Homo sapiens: one gene and its partner. The protein of the gene in region 2 interacts with the protein of the main gene of each other region in a biochemical or structural test. Each region holds a gene or a part of one and is shown on either strand. Other genes may lie near its edges.

The links.
Region 1: the proteins of CNKSR1 (region 2) and RHPN1 form a complex in vitro, tested with the Homo sapiens proteins (one study listed by BioGRID).

The regions. Positions count from the first base shown.
Region 1 is NC_000008.11:143,366,862-143,370,606, reverse strand, and holds the start of RHPN1 (rhophilin-1), read right to left. Parts: upstream 1,732-3,745; 5' UTR 1,620-1,731; coding exon 1,560-1,619; intron 1,528-1,559; exon of another isoform or gene 814-1,527; intron 783-813; exon of another isoform or gene 1-782. UniProt on the Homo sapiens protein: Has no enzymatic activity. May serve as a target for Rho, and interact with some cytoskeletal component upon Rho binding or relay a Rho signal to other molecules.
Region 2 is NC_000001.11:26,187,491-26,190,529, forward strand, and holds the end of CNKSR1 (connector enhancer of kinase suppressor of ras 1), read left to right. Parts: intron 1-743; coding exon 744-817; intron 818-951; coding exon 952-1,013; intron 1,014-1,107; coding exon 1,108-1,207; intron 1,208-1,281; coding exon 1,282-1,463; intron 1,464-1,788; coding exon 1,789-2,058; 3' UTR 2,059-2,394; downstream 2,395-3,039. UniProt on the Homo sapiens protein: May function as an adapter protein or regulator of Ras signaling pathways.

The DNA.
Region 1 (3,745 bases), on a different chromosome or scaffold from region 2:
GCCTGCTCTCATCACGCCTGGGGCAAATACAAGTCACCCAGACCTGTCCACAGGGCCTCAGGCCCAGGTGTGGCCTCTAAGTGGATGAACGACCGACCCCTGACCCACTGAACTCTGAGCTTTAGGGCCAGTTTGGGGGCCAGCCTGATGGGGGTGGAACAGGCCTCACTCTAGCCCGGCAGCAGGCATCGGGGAAGACTTTCCAGATGGCAGGACAGCCTGAGTGGTGCGCGTGTGACACAGGGCCTGCCTCCGCCCCACTGCCACCTCCCACGGGCCCCTCCCCAGTACCCTGACTGTGGGGTCATTTCTGGACGCTGTGAGAGACACGGCAGCCTGGAAACAGCTTCTCCCCAACTTTCCAAGGTGGCAGCCCAGGGAGGGCCAGGACAGGGAGCCCAGGCACAGCCCCCAGCCTGAAAAGCGTCACCTCCGGAGCCCTCTGGGACATCTTGTTTGTACAGCCTCCCAAACATTCCACCCAAAACAACATGTGCCGTCCCAGGCCACCTGCAGGCATGGCCGCCCTGACAGAGCAAGTTCATAGGGGGCAGGCACAGGCTGCCTCTTTCCCTCCAGTGCCCAGGAGGTGCTGCAGCCTCTGGCACGCCTCGGGGTGGGCAAGAAGGGCGTCCTTGAGGGCTACGGTCAGCATCACCAGCCCAGTGACCTGAAGCCAAACCCTGGCTGATAGCACCGCCTCCTCCTCTAGGAGACCTAACCCCAAACACCAAAGCCGAGTAGAACCAGCCCAGGGACAACACAGTCTGACGTCCCAGAGGGGAGGAGGGCCGCGCGCTATCAAAGGCTCACCCGGGGCGAGGAGCAGGAGCAGCCCGCGGCTGAAAGCCCGTGGCGGGCGTGGGCGCCCAGGGCCTGGCAGGAGGACTGGGGCAGCCTCGAGCTGGTCCGCAGGGAACAAGCAGGCTCTGGGCTGCAGAGCAAGGCCCACAGACGTCCCCTCCTTCCCAGGCACAGACTCAGCAGGTCTCCACAGCCCTGCCCACCCCTCCCACTTGCCCAGTCAGCACCCCGGGTTAGGGACTTCAGAAGGGAAGGAGGTTTGGGAAGTGAGAAGAGGCCAGCCGGGAAGACCTCTCTCGGTTTCCCATACCCAGGAGGCTTCGCTGCCCGCTGCTACCAGTGCACCCAATGGGCATGCAGTTCCTGAGCGGATGCAGAGGGAGGACCGAACTAGGGAAGGAGGCTGTACAGGTGCCGGAAAGGAACACGATGGCGGGTGTGGGGAGGGCGCTCACAGAGCCCAGCCCCACATCCGCCCAGAAGGGGGACACGAGGAGGGCGTCCCCCCAACCCGCTTCAGCGGTGAGGATGATCCAGACTTTGGCTGTCCGCATTTCCCGGCTCACATGAGTGGCCTGGAAGCACCTCCACCGAGCTCAGAGGAGGAGGGACGCAGGCTCTGGCCTCAGTTTCCCTGCCTGCGTCCGGGCCGAATGAGACGTAGGAGGGGGGCGCCCGGAACGCGCCTCGAGGGGGGGCAGGAAAAGGCCGGGATTCCGGGCCCCTCCTCCCGCCGCCGCGCCAGTTCTGCGCACCTGCAGCCGCGGGCTCTCCTCGCCGGCGCCCGCGCCGTCCGGCCTCTCCTCCAGGATCATCGCCGCACCCGCTGCGCTGGGGGTCCCTCGGGGTCAGCCAGCCCGCCGCTCGCGCAGCGCTCCGCAGCCGGGCTAGGGCCGCCCGCACCACCTGGGCCGCGGGCTCCTGAGTGCCCGCGCCGGTCCCCGACTGTCCCTCCTGAGTGGGGGCGGCCCGCGGCGCGGCTGGGCGGGGCACGGGTCTGGCGTGCGAAGCTGGCCATTGCCCAATAGGCGGCAATGCCGCTTCGACGGACAGCTATATCAGCCAACCAGAGTTCCAGGAAGGCGGGCTCTGGACGGCCAGCTCCGCCCGCCCGCGGGACGGTAACCCCTGGCAACCGCGGCCGGAACGCCCGCGGCTGGCTGGCAGGTTGTACTGCGCATGCGCCGCGGCGGCCGCTGAGCGTGCGGGAGAAGTTCGGGAAACGGAGAAAAAAACTATACGGAACGTCCCAAGCTGAGAGTCAGGGCGGACCTGGACTCGGCGCGCCTAGCTCCTCGGCTCCCTTTGCGGGGACTCCAGGAGTCTGCCCGCTCGCGCCGTTTCGTCCTGTCACCCCGGCAACGGGACCCTCTAAGAGGCTTGTTCCAAAAATGTTCACAATGGGGTTTTTAAAAACGGTTTTGTTAGGGACAAGTGCTTGTGTGAGTCCTCCGACAATGCCTGCTTTCTTCTCTCTGCCCGCGGAGCGGAGGCTCCAGGCCTGGCCCCAGTCCGAGGCGCCTCTGTCGGTGTCGTCCTGCTTCCAAAACCGGCCTCCAGAACCCGCCTCCTTCCAGAACCTCCGTCCAGAACCCGCCTCCCTCCAGAACCTCCGTACAGAACCCACATCCTTCTAGCACCTGCCTCTGGAACCCACGTGCTTTCAGAACTACCTGTTTGTAGAACTTGTTTCCAGAACGAACCTGCTTTCCGAATCTCTTTACTTCCAGAGCTTGTTTCCTGGACTGACCTATTTTCAGAACCTACTTTCAAAACCAGCTTGCCTCCAGGACCACCTGCTTGGAGAACTGGCCTGCAGCCCCAGGACTGGACGACCTGAGACTGCACAGCTCCCTGCGGGGCTCACCCGGCTGTGTGTGTCCTTCCGGGCCTTCCATACTTCCCTAGGTGTCTGGTGACTCCGGAGCCCGCTCGGATTTCGTGTGGGTCTCGCCTCAGCTCAGAACACACCCTTTGAAGAGCAGGAAGGCCAGGGCACAGGCGGTAACCACGGCTCCTGGTCATCAAGTTCCTCTGAAGCCCAGGTCTTGTCCACGTTCACTGCCCCACCACAGGCCCAGCGGAGCCTTGGAGCTGAGCCCTGGGATCATTCTGGTGCCTGTGCTCCCGGCTCCGCAACAAGCACACAGGAGCCTGTCATCCCCAGATCTAAATCCTGAAGGCTAAGCTCCGTGGTCTGCCGCAGCCATCTGCAGCAGGCCCCTCCCAGCAACAGCCTTCTCATAAGGCCCCTGCCAGCCACGCGAAACCTCCTGGCTAGGGCCTGTCTTCCACTCCTGGCCTTTTGAGACAGGGCCTCACTCTGTTCCCCAGGCCGGAGTGCAGTGGTACGATCACAGCTCACTGCAGCCTCCACCTCCTGGGCTCATGTGATCCTCCCACCTCAGCCTCCTGAATAGCTGGGACTACAGGCTTGCACCACCACACCCGGCTAATTTTTGTATATTTTGTAGAGACAGGGTTTCGCCACATTGCCCAGGCCCAGGCTGGTCTCAAACTTCTGGGCTCAAGCAATTCATCTGCCTCAACCTCCCAAAAGTGCTGGATTACAGGGATGAGCCACCATACCCGGCTTTTTTTTTTCTTTCTCCTGGCCTTTTGGGGCCCTTGAAGTGTCTGCTCCCTGGGAGCCCTTCAGCTTGTCGTCCACTTGGTGGGTTCCCACCCGTCCTTCTCACTTCTGCCTGAATCACACAGGCTACATGAGACCTTCACCCACCCCCTTCGCCAGCAGCTCTGTGGTTCAAGTTTCCTCAAGGTTAGGGGCTCCTGGCCATCTTACCTGTGGGCCTGAGCATGGGCCGATGCTTCCAAAGTTCACACTGGGTGCACTTGTGTGGGGACTTCCATGTGAGTCATCTCCTTGCAGGCTGCCAAGGTCCTGTACAGCAGAGACCCAAACCCTCTTAGCAGTCTTCAG
Region 2 (3,039 bases):
CGCCTCCCTTAGCCCCTACTCTCATATGATTCCCAAACTCTGTGAGCTTGGGAGCCTAGGCTCAGGAGCCTGGAGATACAAATTCCAGCTCTCTGAGAGTGGTTGGTCAAGATACTCACTTCTCTTTCTCTTTTTTTTTTTTTTTTTTTTGAGACAGAGTCTCACTATGTCACCCAGGCTGGAGTGCAGTGGCGTGATCTTGGCTCACTGCAATCTCCGCCTCCTGGGCTCAAGTGATTCTCCTGCCTCAGCTTCCTAGGTAGCTGAGACTACAGGTGCCTACCACCATACCCGGCTAATTTTTGTATTTTTAGTAGAGAGGGGGTTTCACTATGTTGGCCAGGCTGGTCTTGAACTCCTGACCTTGTGATCCGCCTGCCTCGGCCTCCCAAAGAGCTGGGATTACAGGTGTGAGCCACTGCACCCGGCATCTCTCTTTTTTTTTAATTAAAAAGTTTTGTGGGGAGATGGGTTTGCCCTAGCTGGTCTCAAACACTTGGCCTCAAGCAATCCTCCTGCCTCAGCTTCCCAAAGTGCTGGGGTGACAGACGCGAGCCACCGCACGCAGCCAGTACTCACTTCTCTAAGCCTCAGTTTCATCATCTATAAAATGGGTGACTAAGAGTTCATCCCTCTCAGAGTTGCTCTGAGGATCATTAGAAGATGATGTGGGTAAAAAGCCCCCAGCATACAAGAGGGCCCCAGTGGATGGAAACCCTGTGAGACCTGCTTGCTCTCCATAGGTGGGTGCGTCATCTCATTACCTGCATCTCCAAGTACCAGTCTCCAGGCCGGGCCCCCCCACCCCGAGAGGAAGGTAGGTGTCTCGCAGGGTTGAGTGGGAGGAACCCTCACCTGAGCCTGTGCCTTTCCTGGGATGGGGGCTAGGAACTCAAATGCCCTAGGCCACTCCCTGGCCTCCCAAAAACCCACTGCTGCTCCTCACCCCAGACTGCTACAGTGAGACCGAAGCAGAGGACCCGGACGATGAGGCTGGGTCCCACTCAGCCTCGGTGAGTGGGGGGCTGCCGGGGGTAGGAGGTGGGGATAAACAACAGGGCGTGGAGCTCAGACAGAAACCCTCTGTGCTTTCCACCCTGCCTGCAGCCCAGCCCTGCTCAAGCTGGGAGTCCCCTCCATGGAGACACATCACCTGCAGCCACCCCCACACAGCGCAGCCCACGGACCTCCTTTGGCTCTCTGACAGGTGCTGGGCTGGAGTTGGGAGCTGGGCTGGGGGCTGGGGTGGGCACATCCTCATCCTGCTCTTCCCTCCCACAGACAGCAGTGAAGAGGCACTGGAAGGAATGGTACGGGGGCTGAGGCAGGGTGGCGTGTCCCTCCTAGGCCAGCCACAGCCCCTGACCCAGGAACAGTGGCGGAGCTCTTTCATGCGGCGCAACCGAGACCCTCAGCTCAATGAGCGAGTGCACCGTGTGCGGGCGCTACAGAGCACACTCAAGGTCAGCTGGGGGGCTCTGGGCACAGCAAGGGACTAGGCTCTGGGCTTCAGGCTTTGGTTTGCGGCTGTCACCTCCACCCTGGGCACCAGACTCCAGACTCCAGACTCAGCTCCGGACCCTGGGCTTAGCAGCTGACAGCGGGCTCAGCTGTGGACTGGGCCAGGCTCTGGGTTCCGAGTGGGGATTTGAGTCTCACCTAGGCTCCTCGTGCCACGCTGGCCAGGTGCTGGCTTCCAGGCACCGGACCTCCGGAGTGAAGTCTGGCCTCGGGCTCTGCCCACTTCCCTGGGTGATCATGGTCCCTTAGCCCCTCCTCTCCACACAGGCAAAGCTGCAGGAGCTGCAGGTCCTAGAAGAAGTGCTGGGTGACCCTGAGCTGACAGGAGAGAAGTTCCGCCAGTGGAAGGAGCAGAACCGGGAGCTGTACTCAGAGGGCCTGGGGGCCTGGGGAGTGGCACAGGCTGAAGGCAGCTCCCACATCTTGACCTCTGACTCCACAGAACAGTCCCCCCACTCCCTGCCCTCTGACCCTGAAGAGCACTCCCATCTCTGCCCCCTGACCTCAGAGAGCAGCCTCCGACCTCCTGACCTCTGACCCTGGCCAGCACTCTAGCTCCTGACCTTTGACCCGAGGGCCACCTCAACCCCAGCTTCTGACGTGTCCAGGACAGAGCATCCCTGGATTCTGTTCAGGGTGGGAAGTAGTACTGCTAGTCATGGTCTCACCCCGAGCTGACCCCTCTGCCTGGGCTTTGTGCCACCCTCTCCCTTGCCAAAGAAGAAACTCTCCCCCCAAATCCTCCAACCTCTGGGGCCACAGCCCTGCCCCTCCAGTTCCTTGGCAGTTCTCCCCCAAACCAGGTCTGTACAGGTGTTCTTTATTTTACATGAGGGCTACTTTCCAACCAAATAAAGTCAATTTTTCTAAGAATGAGTCTACATGTAACTTTACTTCCATATTCGAATTGGAAATCTGCCCCCCTGTGGGGACTGGGGTGAGTGCTCTTGGCCAGAGGGTGGGTGGCAGACCCTTCGTGCAGCCCGTTGGCCTGGGCTCTGTACCCGAGCTCCAAGCCTGCCAGGATGGTGGGGGATGACCCATGGCTAATGAGGGCTCCGACTCATGTCCACCTCTCCCCAGCTCTTTGAAGGCTAATGGTGATCTCCTACCCCATTCCCGGGGGGCACACAATGAGAAACTTCCACTTTGTAGATGGGGAAATGCACTTTGCACGGAAAGGTGGTGGGGACAGTCCTGGAGACTGGGCTGGTAGGACAGGGCAGCTGGTGGGGAAGGGTGCAGGTTGAGGTCTGCCCTGGGAAGGCCCTGGGGAAAACACTTCTCTCCTTCACTCCTCATTCCAGCCTCACCTCCACCTCCTGGATCCAAGGCAGGGACATGTCCCTGTGACTCCATTCAGGCTGCACGGGAAATCTGACCTGCTCCCATCAGCCTCTGACTTCCAACCCCAGCCCAGCATCCCCACAGCATCCCCAGACTTCCTCTGTGGGATGCGGAGGAGGGCCAATGGGAGGAGCTTCTCTCCAGGTTGGAATTCCTCAGTAGAATGCAGAC